Regions from separate parts of the Homo sapiens genome. Here region 1 is linked to region 2. The links come from fine-mapping of genetic effects on gene expression. A gene starts in region 2. The other region holds a variant in brackets. All regions are shown on one strand. Distances are between the middles of the regions.

What was found. PIP is the estimated chance that this variant, and not a neighbour inherited with it, causes the effect.
Region 1: its variant is fine-mapped to the expression of ALOX15B in lung (GTEx, PIP 0.98).

What each region holds. Positions count from the first base shown.
Region 1 is chr17:8,064,225-8,074,105 of GRCh38, forward strand. ALOX12B (arachidonate 12-lipoxygenase, 12R type) reads right to left here. Exons shown (of 15, transcript NM_001139.3): 13 at 9,433-9,533; 14 at 8,924-9,094; 15 at 8,412-8,726. The coding sequence ends at 8,547. It also overlaps the pseudogene ALOXE3P1. Among named protein-coding and RNA genes, the nearest start is that of ALOX12B, 19 kb to the right of the region's middle. RefSeq lists enhancers at 123-624, 4,753-5,254, 8,835-9,368. The variant C/T (reference allele first, on the strand shown) is at 6,874.
Region 2 is chr17:8,032,538-8,042,516 of GRCh38, forward strand. It overlaps ALOX15B (arachidonate 15-lipoxygenase type B), which reads left to right and starts at 6,522. Exons shown (of 14, transcript NM_001141.3): 1 at 6,522-6,765; 2 at 6,849-7,068; 3 at 7,365-7,446; 4 at 9,832-9,954. The coding sequence starts at 6,619. It also overlaps the pseudogene LOC124904131.

The DNA of each region.
Region 1 (9,881 bases), 32 kb after region 2:
GCCGGGGCTGCAGGAGGGGCATGGAGGGAGCGAGGGGGACCAGGGTGGTCATGGGTCAGGGGAGGGGGGCTGGTGTGGACACAGTGGGGAGGGGGGAGGCAGAAAGGTGACATGAGGGGCACGGGAAGGAGGAGGTGGGATGGTTGGGAGGAACCATACTCAGGGAGGGGAGGATGGAAGATAAGTGGGGGAGGGGAGCACCGGCTCTGACAAGAGGATTAGGTGGGGAAGTTGAGTGGTGGATCAGTGAGTGGAAGAGGGAGAAGCTGGTGGAAAGAGAACAGGCCTGTGAAGCAGAGGGGTTGGGGGCAGAACATCGTGGCCCAGTATTGGGGGTGGTGGGTGTAGCTATGTCTTCTCTTTCCTCTTCCCACCGACTTTACTCTTTGGTCCCCTCTGGCCTGGGCTGTTGAGTTGGGGCTCAGTGAACGGATGGGGACGACCTCAGGTGCTGAAGCAGGTGCTGAAGCAGGGTCTGCCGTGGGGGGAAGGTGGAGTGGGCAGGGCTTCTCCATCCCTGGGGGAAGAGGCAAAGCAGACGCAGAGGCCAGGGGCTGGCCAACACCCTGGTTCAAAGATGCTCCCACCCCAGGTCTGGGGAGAGGAGGGGAGAGGCTGGGGGCTAAGATCTCCCTTTCTGCACCTGGATCCCCTCCACAGCCTGGGCCATTCTGTCTTTGTTTCTGCAGGAACACTGCCCTGAAACTGCAGGACTGCTGGGCAGCCAGGGGTCTGGAAAAGGGATCAGTGTACCTTCATCTTCCCCACACCAAGGTGTCAGGTCCGCAGGGTGAGGGAGGAAGGGCGAGGTGGCTGCAGCAGGGCAAGAGGGTCCTTGGTGGCAACCTTGTGGGACTGAGAACCAGAAAGCCAAAATTAGAACATTCTGGAAATCACAGGACTTGTTCTGTGCTGCCACCAGTTCCTACCTGTCCTTTGAAGAAGCTCACTTCTGCCCTGAGAATGTGCACGTCCTGCCATTGTGCTCGGCTCACTGCAACCTCTGCCTCCTGGGTTCAAGCGATTCTCCTGCCTCAGCCTCCTGAGTAGCTGGGACTACAGGCACCCACTACCACACCTGGCTAATTTTTGTATTTTTAGGAGAGACGGGGTTTCACCATGTTGGTCAGGCTGGTCTCGAACTCCTGACCTCCTGATCTGCCCACCTCAGCCTCCCAAAGTGTTGGGATTACAGGGGTGAGCCACCACGCCCAGCCCAGCAGTGGCTTCTGTGTGGGAAGAAGGTCAGGGCTGAAGGACCCTGGGAGGATGCCCCACCCAACATGTCCTCTCTCATCGTGGGGTAATTGCCCATGTTTGCCCAGCCATTCTCACCTATCAGGGCTTCCAAAAGAATGGCCAAAGTAAGTTCTAACAACTTTGCTTCTTTGCCAAGGCAAGCACCAATGCTACTTTTCTGCCCTCTCTGGATGCCCGTGACTTCGGTCCCACAGGAAGCCAAGCTCCTGAGGCAGCTGAAATTCAGTCAGGGGACTGGGGTCTGTGTACTGATCTACACCCCACTTCATACCTACTTCTTCAAACTGTCCCCAACACTGGGAACACCTGTCCTTGAATATCCTCAGCAATTTAAGGGGAAAAAAAGGCTGAAGCAGAAAGACTTTTTCCTTCCAAAATTGTGCCTGCTTGCTTGGGGGCCTAGGCATGCAGACTTGAAAATAAATCAAGCTTGGGTGGGGCATGGTGGCTCCCGCCTGTAATCCCAGCACTTTGGAAGGCCGAGGCAGGCCAGGCAGGGTGAGGAGGATCACAAGGTCAGGAGATCGAGACCATCCTGGCTAACATGGTGAAACCCTGTCTCTACTAAAAATACAAAAACAAAATTAGCCAGGGTGGTGGCGGGTGCCTGTAGTCCCAGCTACTCTGGAGGCTGAGGCAGGAGAATGGCATGAACCCAGGAGGCAAAGCTAGCAGTGAGCGGAGATCGCACCACTGCACTCCAGCCTGGGCGACAGAGAGAGACTATAGAAAGAAAGGAAGAAAGAAAGGAAGGAAGGAAGGAAACTAAGCTTAGGAGGCCGAGGCAGGTGGATCACCTGAGGTCAGGAGTTTGAGACCAGCCTGACCAACACAGCAAAACCCCGTCTCTACTAAAAATACAAAAATTAGCCACGCATGGTGGCAGGCACCTGTAATCTCAGCTACTCAGGAGTCTGACGCAGGAGAGTTGCTTGAACCTGGGAGGCAGAGGTTGTAGTGAGCCGAGATTGCGCCACTTCACTCCAGCCTGGGCGAAAGAGCGAAACTCCGAATAAATAAATAAATAAATAAACAAACAAGCAAACCAAGCTGGAAGATTCAGTAGTGCTCACTCTCCAATATCCTTGTTGCCGCTGGGTGCACGATGCATTTAAACTATACAGGTCAAACTCTTGGTTCAGAAACCCTAGCACCAGTGCCACGCCCCAAAGCAATGCAACCTCTTATTAAATGATCACTCTGGTTTAACAAATCATCTACACTGCCTTGTGACAAAGTAGCAGGAGAATGGGACCCGGGACTGGTGAGTTTTGGCAGGGAATCAAAAGGGCCTCTCTGAGCGGAAGCCCGGAAGGACGGGCCGTTCTGGTATCCAGCATTCTTTAGTATTCCAGTTTTCTCAAATTCAACTTATCCTAGGTGAGGTCTTAGTGCACATCACAGAGCATGTTAGGCTTCCCTCAAAACGGGTGGGGCCAAGGGAGTTCAGATGACTCCTCAGGCAGAAACCAAACCTGCGATCCTTTGTTGTCTAAGAAAACCACTTGGAAAAGTAAAGTCATCCAACCCGTTGTGCTAGAGAGGAGGGAAGCCCAGCCCAGCCATCAGCATCAGGAAGTGGCTATGCTGGGAAGTTGGAGATGGGTCTGACAGTGGTGGCCATGCTGCAGGCAGAGGACCAGGGTGACTCTCCCCACGCCTACCCTCTGCAGAGTATGCATTTCAGACTAGAAGGAGGATGAGGACACCTTTTTCGCCTCCTTCACCTCCTAGTTTCTGAATGACCTCAACTCCATCCTGATCCACTGCTGTCACTGACTCCCAAAGAATTTTCTGGTCACTGATGCCATGATGGTCCCTGCGCTGGACCCTGGGACCAGTCTGCAGGCTGAGCGGGCGCCAGTGGAGGGAGGGGCATTGTTCTGAGATGGTGAGGGCTGAGGGGCAGGGCTGAGTGAGGAATGTGCTCTCTCCTGCTACTTTGCCAGGAGCCATGCATTGACAGGCCCTCCCAGCACAGAAACTATAGTGATGCGTTGGTTGCCATGGTTTCCGAGGATGCTCTGCAGCTAATCTGAGTGCCCCCCAGAGCTGCTGCTCTCCCCTCCCTGGGCTACTGGGATGGGGTGTGCTGCGACCCCAGGAGGGTGCATTTCGTGCTGACCTCCAGCGGGGCGCGCTTCTCTCACTGTCTCTCACTGATGCTTGGGCCTGGCCACAGTAGAGTCACCTTCAATACTTGGGTGGGGGAAGAGGGGAGGGGCTTCTTTCTCTGGAACCACAAAGTGGCTCTGAGTTGGAACACCCCACTGGCTCCAGAGAATGAAGTTCCTTTAAGTGAAATACTCCCAGGTTCATAATAACTCCCCCTTCCTCACCCAAGCCTGCTCAGCCCTCCTCCTCCTCCACTCCTCCTCTAAAGGGGCTCTCTGTACCTGGTGGACCATGCCATCCTCTCAGGCCTCTACCCCAGCATCATTCATGGGAGGCCCTAGTTCATGACTGCACCCCTGATCCTGCTGCACCAGCGTCCCAACGGCAACAGGCCCTTGCTATCCCTTGTCATTCTGGTCAGCCAGGCAGGGCCTCGGTGGGCTGGTGGGTGGGGTAGGGGAAGTCTATTACATCCTCGGGATGACTGAAAGGTTGCCTCCTCCCAATGCCACTGTGCCTGGTGACATCACCTCTCCAATCCTACTCAGCCCCTCTCAAGTTTGTCTTTCTGTTTTGTCCTCTTTGATTTCCATCTTGATAGAAAGTTTATGATACTCAAGAGAACAAATTGCCCCTTGACAGGGTGTCAGAATCGATTGTACTAAGTCACGCACCTTTGGCAGTTCAACCGTGTTCCTAATAGTTAAAACCATAACCCATTCGGGAGGTGTCCACACCGTCCCTTCCCATCCTTCCAGTCTGCCCCACACAACTGGGGCTCTGGATGACTGGACTGGTACAGGGAAGTCAGCCAACACGATGCCTTGGGTCACTTCACCTCTCAAGGAGATTATTCTCATCAACCTTGTCTTACTAATGAGGAAACTGAATCACAGAGAGGTTAATAAACTTTCCCAAGTTCACACAGCTGGTCAAAAGTCGTGTGATTTTGTAGCAGGACGAGCCGCAGACAAAACCCCTCAGACATCAAGTTAAAGAAGGAAGGGCTTTATTCAGCCAGGACCATCGGCAAGACTCGCGTCTCAAAAACCGAGCTCCCAGAGTGAGCAATTCCTGTCCCTCTTAAGGGCTTACAACTCTAAGGGGGTCTGCTTGAGAGGGTCGTGATCAATTGAGCAAGCAGGGGGTATGTGACTGGGGGCTGCATGCACTGGCAATTAGAACGGAACAGAACAGGACAGGGATTTTCACAGTGCTTTTCTATACAATGTCTGTAATCTACAGATAACATAACCGATTAGATTAGGGGTTGATCTTTAACTACCAGGCCCGGGGTGTGGCGCAGGGCTGCCTGCCTGTGGATTTCATTTCTGCCTTAGTTTTTACTTCTTCTTTCTTTGGAGGCAGAAATTGGGCATAAGACAATATGAGGGGTGGTCTCCTCCCTTATTCTGGCCCCATGGACGTGGTGATGGGCTGCCCTTCCCCAGTTTCTGCCCAATGCCTGCCCTCTCCTGTGCCCCCACTCCAGCTCACTCAGACACCCAGCCTAGACAGCCCCATCTTCCTGCCCAGTGACCCCAGCTGAAGACTGGTTCCTGGCCAAGACCTGGGTGTGACCCTGAAAGTTCCTGTTGCACAAGACGGTCACTCATCTACTTCAAACCCACTTTGTGGTGGAGCTTTTGCTTTGTCCATGCTGTGGCAGCTGCCCATGAGCCACCCATTTTCAAGGCAGGGAGGAGCCCTCCTCTCAGTGCCCACAGCTGTGGGAGACCCGGGGCTGCCTGATCTGACCTCTGACTCCGGCTTCCCCTTTCTTCTGCACCTTCCACATCAACATCCAGCCCGCACTGGGCTCTTTGTACCAGGAAAGCTCATCCACCAGGTCAAGGCCCTGGAGGCCTGGGATCTTGGGGTGAGCACAGAGGGCCTGGGGAGGCCTGAGATTTGGTCCAGAGCCCCTCCTAGCAGCAGGAGTGGGCTCTCTGCTCATTACAGTCAACATTGTTGGGACAGATGGGCTGCCTGGAGCTGATCACCAAAGGGCTGGCAGCTGCCAGCTACCACTCCCTCTACCTGTCCCACCAGCTGGCTGACTTCAAGGTCCAGGACCTCGCCCGCTACTACACTCCAGATCTGGGCAGCCATAGAGAGGTGACACTCCCCTGGGGCCTGAGGGCTCCAACCCTCTCACCCTCGGCTAGACCCCTGTTGGTTTATTCAACCTTCCCCCAGCCTCCTTCCCAAACACACTGCTGTCTCCAAGCCCTTCCTGTTTACTCTTGATCCTTCCCAGCTGTGTTGGGAAGTTATTTAACCTCTCTGTGCCTGTTTCCTCATCTGACAATGGGGTAATAAGAGCACCTATGGTATAGCTTATTATTCTTATTCAATCCAAAACCCTAAGAACAAACCCCAGTGCACAGAAAGTGCTCTCGGAGATTAGCTATTAAGATTATTATGCCGGGCGCGGCGGCTCACACCTGTAATCCCAGCACTTTGGGAGGCTGAGGTGGGCGGATCACTTGAAGTCAGGAGTTCGAGACCAGCCTGGCCTACATGGCAAAACCCCATCTCTACTAAAAATACGAAAGTTAGCTGGGTGTAGTGGTGGGCGCCTGTAATCCCAGCTGCTGGGGAGGCTGAAGCAGGAGAATCACTTGAACCCAGGAGGCGGAGGTTGCAGTGAGCAAGATCGTGCCATTGCACTCCAGCCTGGGCAACAAGAGCAAAACTCGGTCTCAAAAAAAAAAAAAAAAGATTATTTTTCACCCCATAGATAAAGTCACTGTGTCTCCAGGTTTTTCCGTTGAAATCTTCCTCATAGGAGACTGCCTTGGGGTATAGCTGTGGCCTCCACCCCAATGGCCAGATCCTCTTAATATCTGGCCTCCCACGGGTTCCCAGCTCCTGCCACCAGCCTGCATAATGGCCTCCCTCCAGCACCGAGATTGATGGCGGTGCCGCTGCCCATTAGCCTCCAGTGGTGCCCAGTGGCTCGCCACATGCAATGCTGCATTCCCTGCCAGCTCAGCCCCTCTGAAATCTGCCCCTACTTCCATTCTTCCACCTCAGCACACACTGGGCCTAGGGAGACGAGGCACCCTAATTTCTCCCTTTCTCCCAATTCAAATTCTGCCCCTGCTTCAAGCCCAACTCATGTCCCACCTCCCCCTTGAAGACCTCAGGGACTCCCCCTATATGAACATCCACAGCAGGAGCTCCTTCCTCAGCAGGGGTCTGCACATCCTACTATGGCTGGGGATGGAGGGCCCTTTGGGAACCAGTGGATGAGATGAACCCAATCAGCCGGTCCTGAGGCAGATGGACCTGGTGTCTCATCCTTCCCTGTGGGTTGGAATCCAAATGCCTGCAGGACCAGTGAGCAGAGAAAAGCTAAGGAAGAAGAGTGGGCAGGGACCGTGGCCAGTGGGAAACTCATGTTTGTCTGATGGGGACAGTGGTGACCCAGCTATCACTGTGACCAGATCTTCTGATTTTTCAGCAGAAACCAGACATCTTCTAATATTTAAA[C/T]GTTGGCAAGTGATTCAACTTGAAAAACAAACAGAAAAACCTTGCCAGCTGATCAAAACACATCTGCAGATCAATCATGGCCTTCGGGCCTCTGTTTGCATGGCATGGTGAAGAGCACAGCCTCCCGGTTTGATCTCGGCTCTGCAGTTCACTCTGTGGTTGGCCGTTTTCCTTCCTTGGCCTCAGTTTCCCCCTTTGTGGGCAGCAGGTCTCAGTGGCCCCTTCCAACCCATACCCCTGTGCAGTGTTGGCTCCCGGCTGTTAGTCACCGTGTATTCCCGACCCCCCAGCTTTGGGACCAATATTGTTAACATCTACTACCCGGACGATACGGCAGTGAGCAGGGACTCAGAGCTCCAGGCCTGGGTCAGGGAGATCTTCCAGGAGGGTTTTCCAAGCCAAATGCTCTCAGAGGTGGCGTCCACTGCCCCAGGGCAGCAGCCTCTTGGGTCTCAGCTCTGTTCTCTCTACCCTACTCCCATCTAGGGGGTCCCCTCCACCCTGGGCCACTGTGCTGGGCTCATCCGGTGTTTCACGACGATCATCGTCACCTGCTCAGCCCAACATGCTGCCATCAACAGCGGCCAGGTGAGCCACTGCCAGACCAGGGGGACAAGCAGGGTCACGGGAGGAGCAGCCCTAGCAGCACTGGAAGCTCTGTACTGAGTTTGCGGGGGTCGGTCTGAATTCAGTGACTGGATCCCCAATATTCCTATCATCCTGTGGCTTGCCCTGCCCACCGCCAAGGGCCAGACAGAACAAGCAGCCTCACTCCCTGCGGTCGATGCCACACACCACCCCCTGCTGCTCCTGTGGGGGGTCAGCAATGGAACCAAGGCCACCATAAGCAAGGCCCAGGTGGGGATGGCTGGGGTCTCAGCTTCTAGAGAGTGGGAACATTGAGGAAGGGATCCTGGGGACAATGGCTACTAGGAGGATGCACTTAGCTTAGCAGGCTGGGCTCCTAGGTGGCAGGGCTTGTGGCCACTAGGTTGCTGGTGGGTGTGGTTTAGGGTGCTGTGGATTCCTAGTAGGGGGAGTTTAGAGTGGTCTGGGCTTCAGAGTGAGCCGGGCTTGGGGTGGTCTGGGTTTCTTGTGGCCCGCAGTCTTTTGTCTAGGTGGGCGGGTGTTTTATGTTTCAAGTTGGATGGGTCTGGAGTGCTCCAGGACCCCTACGTGGGCTGGGCTTGGGTGGACTAAGTCCCCTGGGAGGGAGACTTAAGCTGGAACAGAATCGTTGTGGGCTGAAAATGCAGCCGGCCAAGGTCCCAGCCTTTCGGTCTCCCCTCCTGGACACCTACCCAGAGGAGCACTTCACCGAGAAGGCCCCGCGGCAGAGCCGCCTGGCCCAGATCTCGGCGGACGTCCTGGAGTGGAGCCGGGGCCTGGCGCTGCCCTACTCCTACCTGAACCCCGCGGCCGCAGAGAACGGAATCGCGGTGAGAGCGCGCGGCACAGCCTGCACCTGCACCCCGCGGCGCCAGCCCTGCCGCCAGCGCCCCAGTAACTTGCCGCGCGCATTCACAGCCAGACCCAGGGAAAGGAAGGTTTTTTGTTTTTTTGTTTGTTTGGTGTTTTGGTCTCTGAGGTTTTTGTGTTTTTTGCTTGTTTGTTTTGTTTTGTTGAAAATAGTAGGGCACAGAATGGGGAGAGGAGAGACGGGAAGCGCGCTCCTAAATAGAAATGCTGTTCTCAATCAGCACCGGGTCCAGGTAGTAGTAGGGGATGGGAAGGCACTTGTTGCGCTGGCGGATGTCGTGTGAGATCTGGTTCAGGCGCTGGCGGAACGCCTCTATGCTCCTCCGCGGGGCCTCCTCCACGAAGTGAATGTCCGGGAAGTGTCCCAGGGGCCGCTGCGGGCAGAGAGCTCGACAGCTGGGACCAGGGCCGGCCAGCACCCCCTCCTCCTGCCGGTGGCCCTGGCCCCTCCACCCTTTGGTTTCAGTGGCCTCTCACTCCCTGCTCCCCTCTTGACGCCGCTAGTTATCCTCCCCCATCCCCGGCTTCTGGTCCCCTCCCTGTGCTCAGAGTCCCCCATCCCGTCTCGCACCCTGTCGTCAGGCTCTCGGCTGAGGGTCCAGAGCACCAGCAGCGTGATGCACGTGGTCTTCACATCCGGCAACGTGTCCATGAAGGTCTCCAGAGTGGTCAGCCCCTTAGTCTGAATCGGTGGATTCCGCATGGACGCTGGGAAGTTGGGCATCCAGGCGGTGAACTCCATCTGGAGGTGGGATAGAGGCGCGGGTCTGGGTGGAAGAGTACCTCAGGAGTTTCCTTCCACCAGGTGCTGACCACCCGCCCTCCAGTCGCTGAGATGGACTCCCCGCCCTTGGCGCTGAGGCTGGGCTGGGTTGGTTAGACTGGGGGTGGGGCTGGGTGTGGGGCTGGGGCTGAGAGTTGGGGCTGAGGCTCGGTTTCCGTTGGGACTGGAGTTGAAGCTGGAACAAGTTGAGGCTGGACCAGGGATTATGGCTGAGGCTGGGTTTGAGGTTGGGGCATGGACGAAATTTAGAAGGTCTGAGCCTCGGGCTGGGCCTGGGTTGGTGAGACCACCGGTACCTGGCCTGTGTTGACAGCAGCGTGCTTGGCAGAGCAGGTGTAGATGACTATAGTGACATATCGGATCAGCTCAGGCACGGTTCGCAAGCACCTAGGGAAGCCTGACCGGCGGGGGAAAAGCCCAGGCGACATCAGTCGTGCCCTGGTACTGGCTGCCCGGCAGAGGGCGCCACCATGCCCCGCTCTCACCGTTTTGCAAAAGCTTCAAGCTGCCGCATCCGTACCCTCATCCTGCCTGCGTGACCCTCCTATGGCAGCAACCCCATCTCCCCTCACCCAGATCATAAGGCTGGGGACGGAGGACTTGGCCAGAAGTCCTCCAGGGCTGCTCCTGGCCCCTGTCTAACCAGTGGCCCTCAGATCTCTCTTCCAGTTTCCCTGGGGATGCCGCTCCGGTCCCAGACCTGGGGATGTTGGGAGAGGCAGGAGGCTTTCCTGGGTTCCTTCGG
Region 2 (9,979 bases):
TAATAAAAATTGACTACACCTTGGCACATCATTGTGAAATTATGGAAGCTGGGCCAGGGAGAGGCTCCTAAAAGCTTCTGGAGAAAATGTCATGTCATATGAAAATAATCAGGAATGCAAATAGCTCTAGGCTTCTTTATAGCAACACTGCTACCATTGGAGCAGTGCTTTCAAAATTCCGAACCAAAAAAAAAAAAAAATTGATTTCAGAGCTACTATTTAAGTGTATAGATAGATTATAGGCATTTCCAGACATGCAAAGTCTTAAAAACTTCTCCTCCCTCCCACATACCCTTTCTTGCTTAGCCCAAGAAATAAGCCAGGAAATAACAAAACATGAGATCCGGGAAACAAATCTCCAGCACAGCAGAGAGGTAAAAGGAAGACAAAGGATGGTGGTGAAGCAAGAGCTCAGGAGGACCAGGAAAGAAGCCAACAGGACACACTGGAGAGACTCCTTCACACAGTGGAACCGACTGGGAAATGGATGTGTCTGAACTGATAGAGAGGCAATCTGAACAAGTGGTGAAGTTTCGGATTAAACTAATGAAAAATATATAGAAAACCAGACCAATAATATAATCATTATTATATAGAGAAACAACAAAAGGTTTTGTATGGAAGAAAAAAATAATTACAGTATACTATAAATGTCCCCTATGAATAGCATATCCATAACAAAAATCACGTAAACACTGAGTGTCGTTTGCTCGGTCCTAATAAAACTGTACTAGAAGGATGGGGGTGAGAAACGTTTGCAAATGGGAGCAAGACTAGGAAAGAAAATGAAATCCTATCTTCCAGGCCAGGCACGGTGGCTCACGCCTGTAATCCCAGCACTTTGGGAGGCCGAGGCGGGCAGATCACAAGGTCAGGAGTTCGAGACCAGCCTGACCAACATGGTGAAACCCTGTCTCTACTAAAAATACAAAAATTAGCCGGGCGTGGTGGCGCATGCCTGTTATCCCAGCTACTCAGGAGGCTGAGGCTGGAAAATCACTTGAACCTAGGAGGCGGAGGTTGCGGTGAGCCAAGATCATGCCATTGCACTCCAGCCTGGGTAACAAGAGCGAAACTCCGTCTCAAAAAAAAAAAAAAAAAATCCTATCTTCCACAGGGGGAAGCCAATATTTGCCTAAAGCTGAAAAATCATTAAATAAACAATCATGCATGCTATTTTGAGATGCAGTGGTTTAGATTATCAAAGAAAGTAGTGAAAGTTATTGTCTTTCATGAGAGGGAAAGGACAGAAGTGGAGCAGGAAGCAGTTGTTGGTGAGAGATTTGTAGAACTATTTGACTCTTTAAATCATATGCATCTACAGCTTTGATGAGAATATTCGAATTTAAAAGAAAGTAAAAGAGAAGACAGGAAAGAGGAAGGAAGGGAGGGAGGGAGGGAGGGAAACAAAGGCCCGGTGCAGTGGCTCACGCCTGTAATCCCAGCACTTTAGGAGGCTGAGGCAGGTGGACCACCTGAGGTCAGGAGTTTGAGACCAGCCTGGCCAATGTGGCAAAACCTCATCTCTACTAAAAATACAAAAAAATTAGCCGAGCGTGGTGATGGGCACCTGTAATCCCAGCTACTCAGGAGGCTGAGGCAGGAGAATGGCTTGAACCCAGGAGGCAGAGGTTGCAGTGAGCCGAGTTGGTGCCATTGCACTCCAGCCTGGGCAACGGAGCAAGACTCCATCTCAAAAAAAAAAGAAGGCAAGCAGGAGCCAAATCATTCAGGGGCTCAAAGATGGGGTGCACATGACTTAATGGACATTTTAAAATCTCAAGTAAACCCCTTTCCCAGTCAGGGCTCAGATTTCTTCATCTATATCTTGAGGGGTTGGGTGACAACTCCTGTTCAACCTGTCTGAGATCATCATGAGCTGTAGGACAGAATGTAATAAAATATTTACATGATCAAGGGCGATGGTTCTTTTTTTTTTTAACCTTTTAAGTAGGAAGGGTAATGTGCTGTAACAAGATTTGAGACAAGCATGTCTCATATATAAGCATAAAAACCCAATCATCATGCTTACCAAGTACAAAAGGATCAAGGGCAGTGGTTCTAAAGAAGAATCACCCTACTGTAAAATGTAGATTCCCTGGCTAATCTTCTGGGGAGTCTGCCTCCTTGGTGTGAGGCAGGGATGGGGAACTGGCATTTTTTTTTTCTTTTGAGACAGAGTCTCACACTGCTCATTCTGCTGCCCAGGCTGGAGTGCAGTGGCATGATCTCGGCTCACTGGAATCTCTGCGTCCTGGGTTCAAGCGATTCTCCTGCCTCAGTCTCCTGAGTAGCTGGGACCATGGGCACCCACCAACAGGCCCAGCTAATTTTTGTATTTTTAGTAAAGATGGTGTTTTGCCATGTTGGCCAGGCTGGTCTCAAACCCCTGACCTCAAGTGATCCACCCACCTCTGCCTCCCAAAGTGCTGGGATTATAGGCAGGAGTCACATCCAACCCGGAACTGACATTTTTAATAAGCATTCAAAGACATCTGATGCCAGCCATCTGCTTGCCACACGTTGAGCAACGCTACTCCAGGACAAGTCCTTGGAGGTGCAAGATCACAGGTTTAATTGAGATAAAACGGCAAATCAATTCCCCTTTTCAGGGAGAAAGTGTCAATTTGGTATTGATATGTTTTTAGCACCCCTTTAGCGTTAGATAATCTCCTGGAACAGGGAGCTGGCCACAGGCAAAAGAATCTACCTGGAATTGAATTACACTGTTTGGTTTTCATTGCATTCTCCTTTATTCTTACCTTCTATTATGGGAAATGAAACGAATTTTCGATTTACAATAGTGACACAAAGTTTCCTTTAAAATAGATTCACTGAAATTTCTAAGTATCCAAGGATGTATTTTAGGATGAAGAGACAATAAAGCATTTTCACTTTTTCCTAGACTCACTAGATTTTGGCACATGGATACTTGCAATATTGATTTGTATTATGAGAGTGATCTAATTATTACAAAAGGAGCTATAATCACTAACTTATTCTTAATAATAATGGTTACTGGTACCTTTACAATAATGTACAATCCAATGTTTAAAAATGATACCACTTGAGTTTGGTTTGATCCTATAAACTTTCAACAAATGTCTTGGGAGGCCAAGGCAGGCGGATCACAAGGTCAGAGATGGAGACCATCCTGGCTAACACGGTGAAACCCTGTCTCTACTAAAAGTACAAAAAATTAGCCAGGCGTGGTGGTGGGAGCCTGTAGTCCCAGCTACTCAGGAGGCTGAGGCAGGAGAACGGCGTGAACCCGGGAGGCGGAGCTTGCAGTGAGCCAAGATTGCGCCACTGCACTCCAGCCTGGGCGACAGAGCGAGACTCCATCTCAAAAAAAAGAAAAAAGAAAAAAAATTTTTTTTTCAACAAATGTCTTAAAATTTAAAAGCAGGCTGATTAGTTTGGAACCAGACTACAAGTAGAGCTAACATTTGGTGAATAAGAAAACATCACACTACATTTTGGATGTATGAAAGAAAACTTGACCATGTGAAGATATATGAATAAAGAAATGTACTATAGATACTACTTTAGGAAAAAAAAGAGTGATCTATAAATAAAAACATTTGACGTATTTGAAAACGTGTGGGTCTTGCATACGACTCACATGATAAATCTAAAATTCAACCTAGCAATGGATAAGAATTAAGAACGGATGGTTTGGGCAAAGGACATTAACAGACATTGCTCCAAAGGTGATACATAAATGGCCAACAAGCAAATGGAAAGATGCTTAACATTACCGATTATTAGGGAAATGCAGATCAAAACCACAATGAGATACCAGTTCAGGCCCATTAAAATGGCTATTATCAAATAAACAGAAAATAACAAGCATTGGTGGACAAACTGGAACCCTCCTCCTGCATTGCTGGTGGGAATGTAAAATGTTGCGTCCATTGTGGAAAATAGTATGGCGGTTCCTCAAAAAATTAAATATACAGGCTGGGCACAGTGGCTCACGTCTGTAATCCCAGCACTTTGGGAGGCCGAGGTGGGTGGATCGCCTGAGGTCAGGAGTTCAAGATCAGCCTGGTCAATGTGGTGAAACCCCATCTCTATTAAAAATACAAAAATTAGCTGGGCATGGTGGCAGGCGCCTGTAATCCCAGCTACTTAGCAGGCTGAGGCAGGAGAATCGCTTAAACCCAGGAGGCGGAGGTTGCAGTGAGCACAGATTGCGCCACTGCACTCCAGCCTGGGCAACAGAGCGAGACTCGGTCTCAAAAAAAAAAAAAAAAAATTAAACATACTGTTACCATATGATCCAGCAATTCTACTACTAGGTATATATCCTAAAGAATTGAAAGTAAGAACTGGAGCGTGCAATATTGGTTTTCTGTTCCTGTGTTAGTTTGCTAAGGATAATGGCCTCCAGCTCTATCCATGTTCCCACAAAGGACATGATCTCATTCTTTTTTTTTTTTTTTTTGAGACGAAGTCTCGCTCTATCACCAGGGCTGGAGTGCAGTGGCACGATCTTGGCTCACTGCAACCTCCGCCTCCCGGGTTCAAGTGATTCTCCTGCCTCAGCCTCCTGAGTAGCTGGAATTGCAACCTCTGCCTCCCGGGTTCAAATGATTCTCCTGCCTCAGCCTCCTGAGTAGCCGGAATTACAGGCAGTCACCACCACACCCAGCTAATTTTTGTATTTTTAGTAGAGATGGGGTTTCACCATGTTGGTCAGGCTGGTCTCGAACTCCTGACCTCGTGATCTGCCTGCCTCAGCCTCCCAAAGTTCTGAGATTACAGGTGTGAGACACCATGCCTGACCATGATCTCATTCTTTTTCATGGCTGTATAGTATTCCATGGTATATATGGAATATACATGATAAGTCACTCTCACTTCAGTTGGCTTTCATGAAACACTGTGACAGGCACAAGAGGACAAAGTGTCTGCCGGCATCGTTCTCCTCCTACCTCATTGACTGAACTTTGCTGCTTCCACTCCTTTGCATGACTTCCAAATATCAGAGGACCTTAGGGCACAGCTTGTGCCTCTTCTCTTCTCTACTTATAGGATATTCTCTGCCTAGTGATCTCCACCAGCCTGTGGTATAGATGTACCTGTGTGCTTGTGACTCAAAGATGCACACCTGCAGTCCTGAGCTCTATGCCCAGACGTGGGTTCTCCACTTGGATGTCTAATGGCCATCTCAAACTTAGCATCTCCAGACCGAAAACCCCAAATCTGTTATGTTATTCCCCCAAAGCCCAAATCCATAACTTCCCCTTGGCATCTCTCCCCCAAATCCCTCCCTCACTGCACTCTTGCCTTTCCCTCCTCCAACAAGCCAAGCTTTTCCTAACCACAGGGCCTCTTCAGGAACAGTTTCCTCTGCACAAAACTCTGTTCCCCAGACAGATCCTTTCACCTCCTCTGAGGCTCTGAACGCCTCCCTTCCCACCTCTGCTTCTCACTCCTTCACATTAGTCTGTTTCATTTCCTTCATTGCACTTATTATCATCTGAAATTATGTGTTGGTTTACTTATTTTCTCTCACACTTGATTTTTTTTTTTTAGACCGAGATTTGCTCTGTCGCCCATGCTGGAGTGCAATGGCACAACTTCACCTCACTGAAACCTCCGCCTTCCGGGTTCAAGCTATTCTCCTGCCTCAGCCTCCTGAGTAGCTGGGACTACAGGCGCCCGCCACCACGCTTGGCTAATTTTTTTGTATTTTTAGTAGAGATGGGGTTTCACCATGTTGGCCAGCAACTGTGCCTGGCCTCACACTTGATTTTTAATCTCCATGAGAGCAAGCACTAGGTCTTGCCTGGGCCTTTATCAATAGCAGTGAGCATAGCACCTGGCACAGAGGTAGTTCTGAACATTAATTATTGAATGAAATAAAATAATGAATGTAGGCTGGGCGCGGTGGCTCACGCCTGTAATCCCAGCACTTTGGGAGGCCGAGGCAGGCGGATCATGAGGTCAAGAGATCAAGATCATCCTGGCCTACATGGTGGAACCCCGTCTCTACTAAAATACAAAAATTAGCTGGGCATGGTGGCACTCGCCTGTTGTCTCAGCTACTGGGGAGGCTGAGGTAGGAGAATCACTTGAACCCAGGAGGAGGAGGTTCCAGTGAGCCGAGATCATGCTGCTGCACTCCAGCCTGGCGACAGAGCAAGCCTCTGTCTCAAAAATAAATAAATAAATAAATTTTAAAAATAATGAACGCAGGCCCAAGAAGAGTTGTGGGAAATGGGGTGATATTTTTGCATAGACTTCTAAGGCTAAGAAGGAAAACAAACAGACGTGGTGGGCACAAATCTACCCCCACCCCAACTGGGTCCCAACTCTAGGCTCTCTGGCCTGGCACCACCACTGAAAGGCCCCGTTCCCCAAACCTCAGGGTATTCTTAGTCCCTCCTGTTCCCAGCGCTGCCAATCCCCCGCCCACCCCCACTTTAGTTGCGTGTTCCAGCCTCTCCGCCCCGCCCCTCCCCGCCCTGAAACGGACGTGCTTTTTAGAGGAGTCCACTGGGCTTGGAGTCAGTGGCAATAACCAGGGGCAATAACCAGGCGTGTCCCAGGGGGGAGCCCCGCTCTGCAGCCCTGTGCGCCGTAGAGAGCTGGACTTAGGCTGGCAGCATGGCCGAGTTCAGGGTCAGGGTGTCCACCGGAGAAGCCTTCGGGGCTGGCACATGGGACAAAGTGTCTGTCAGCATCGTGGGGACCCGGGGAGAGAGCCCCCCACTGCCCCTGGACAATCTCGGCAAGGAGTTCACTGCGGGCGCTGTGAGTGCGTGGGAGTGGATGGGGTGGAGGTGAAGGGGGCGAGCAGGAGGGTCCGGCCTGACGCATACTTAACCTCCCCTCAGGAGGAGGACTTCCAGGTGACGCTCCCGGAGGACGTAGGCCGAGTGCTGCTGCTGCGCGTGCACAAGGCGCCCCCAGTGCTGCCCCTGCTGGGGCCCCTGGCCCCGGATGCCTGGTTCTGCCGCTGGTTCCAGCTGACACCGCCGCGGGGCGGCCACCTCCTCTTCCCCTGCTACCAGTGGCTGGAGGGGGCGGGGACCCTGGTGCTGCAGGAGGGTACAGGTGAGGGGCGGGCCGGGCTGGGGCTGCAGGGGGAGCACAGGAAGGGGTAGGGGACTGGGGGTTGGGGAGAAGGGCAGGTGAAATGGAGAGGTGAGCTGGTGTGGCCACAGAGTAGCGGGCAGAGGAGAGGGAATGGCGGAGCCTTGGGGAGCGGGAGGTAGCAGCCTGGTGTAGGAGAAACTGTACTTATGGGAGGAGGGGACCTGGTAGAGGGTGGCAATCGTGGAGACTGTGTGGCTGGTGGTAGTGATGGTGAGTTTCTCTCCCCACCCCAACCTACTCCCCTTCTCCCACAGCCAAGGTGTCCTGGGCAGACCACCACCCTGTGCTCCAGCAACAGCGCCAGGAGGAGCTTCAGGCCCGGCAGGAGATGTACCAGTGAGGAGGGGGTTACTGATGGGGGAGGGTGTGCCCAAACGATGAGGGGCAGCTTGAGTGTCCTGGTCATGACAGAGATTAAAAGCCCCTGCCTCCACCTCTCCTATCAAAGCTGCTCCTGGGATCAGCAGCGTCTACAGGAACGTATTAGAAATGCAAATTCTCAGGCCACCTCCAACCTACTACGACACTGAGGGTGTAGAGTGGGAATTTTTGTTTTGACAAGCCTTCCAGATGACTCTGGTGGCCACTGATGTTTGAAAAACACTGCTCTAGGGCCAGGTGCCGTGGTGGCTCACACCTGTAATCTCAGCACTTTGGGAGGCTGAGGGAGGCGGATCACTGGAGGTCGGGAGTTCGAGACCAGCCTGGCCAACAGGGCGAAACCCCATCTCTACTAAAAATACAAAAATCAGCTGGGTAGGGTGGCGGGCACCTGTATTCTCAGCTACATGGGAGGCTGAGGCAGAAGAATAGCTTGAACCCGGGTGGTGGAGGTTGCAGTGAGCCGATCACGCCATTGCACTCCAGCATGGGGGACAGAGCAAAACTCCATCTCAAAAAAAGAAAAAAAAAAAGGAAGGAAGGAAAAGGAAGGAAAGAGAGAAAGAAAGAGAGAGAAAGAAAGAAAGAAAGAAAGAAAGAAAGAAAGAAAGAAAGAAAGAAAGAAAAGAAAGAGAAAGAAACTGCTTTAAATGCCTTACCTTTGCTGGTGTCTTCCTTGCCCTGGGACTTTTTCATGCATCGGCTTGTTGTGTCCTCCCAGAAATCTGAGTAGAGCCAGAAACACGCCCTTCAAGCCCCAGGAAACTCACCCTCCAGGGCTAGCAAGGGGTGAGATGGGGGCTCTCTCTGTGCTCTGGGCTCAGCATTGGAGATCACAGGGGAAAACTGGGACTTGGAGATAACAGAGGAGTTGGGGCCGCTAGTGAGGATTCCCTTGGCACAAAGCCAGGAACTGCATTCAGAAACAGATTTTCAAAAGATCTTGATCCGGCCAACTCATCTGCTATCTAAAGCCTGGGCTGCAGGCTTTTGCTCCTGGTCTGTGGGATCAGAGCAGCCACAGGCTCATTTGGTTCCTGGTGATTCTCCATGTGTCATGAATTCCACCCCTAAGGAAACCATTGCACCAAATCTGGCAGCAACAGCCCCAAGAGAGGGAATAGACATTGAGATCTACTGTGTCCATGGAGACCCAGAGTCAGCCTAGGCCCTGCCAAAACGAGCTGTGAGATCTTAGACCAATTTTTTCATCTCTTCAATTCTTATTTTCTTCTGTAAAAGAAACTAAGAATACCAATCTCGTTTGGGTTAGGAGGAACAAATGAGAAAATGGTTAAGAATGTAGGTGGTCAGCTGCTAAGTCTTGCACAACTGTGTGCTCTTGCTGTTGTTCCTGTCTTTCAGTTCACTCTGTTCCAACACTCTAGGCTCTTATAAAACGTACAGTGAGGTCTCAGATCCATTGCAACAGCATTGCCTGGGAGCTTGTTAGAAATCAGAATCTGCATTTAACCAAGATCTCTATGTGAGAGGGATTCAAGTCTGAGAGGAAGGGTTTGGCCACCACCTGGTGGCAGTGTACTTTAATTGCAAATTTTTCTTTGAAGTTGAAAGCTCAAACCCAAAAGCAAGTTTTGAATGAATCAAAGAATGAATGAGTGAGAGCATGACTGGCTAGGGGTCATCAAGTTTGCAGATACATGAATTTACCATTTCCCTGGAAGGTCTTTGGCTGTGTTGCTTGTTTGAGAATAGAATTTAGAGATGCCTCGGGCGGCTCCCCCTAAACTATGAAGGCTGAAGTGCCTCTCTATGGGACACCTACCAAAGGCAACTGAAACCTTCTGCGCAGCCCCTGTCCCAGGATAGTCTCGCCTCTACAAGATGCGTCTGTGTTAGTCGGGACTTCTATAGTTGCAAGAACAAAAGCTAACTCCAACTAGCAGGCAGAAAAAAAGTTTGTCGGCCAGACACAGAGGCACTTACAGAAACACAGGCAGGAATTGTCCACCCAGTGGAAAATGGCCATAACTAACAGTCTGTGTTTACTGCTATAATCTACATATCCAGAGAGAGACCACCTCTCTGGCTCAGCCCCAATGGCAAATTCCCTGGAAAGGACTCTGATTGGCCCAGCTCTAGTCAGGTGCTCAACTCTGGACCAATCACCCTTGACCAGGGGAGCCATCTCACTGTGGGAAAATGGCAGCTCCCTTGCAGCCTCCTTGGGTAGAATGGAAGGGCAGCTCCCAGGAGGGCCCTCTTGGCTGAAGGGGTCTGGCTGTGACCAGGCCCCCCAAGGGGACTGCCACTCCATCTGCCCTAGCAAAGAGTCTCCCTGAGGCCTCTTGCTGACCACCTTCCCTCTCTACCCTCCAGGTGGAAGGCTTACAACCCAGGTTGGCCTCACTGCCTGGATGAAAAGACAGTGGAAGACTTGGAGCTCAATATCAAATACTCCACAGCCAAGAATGCCAACTTTTATCTACAGGCTGGCTCTGCGTGAGGATGCCCACCCTTCCCTGCC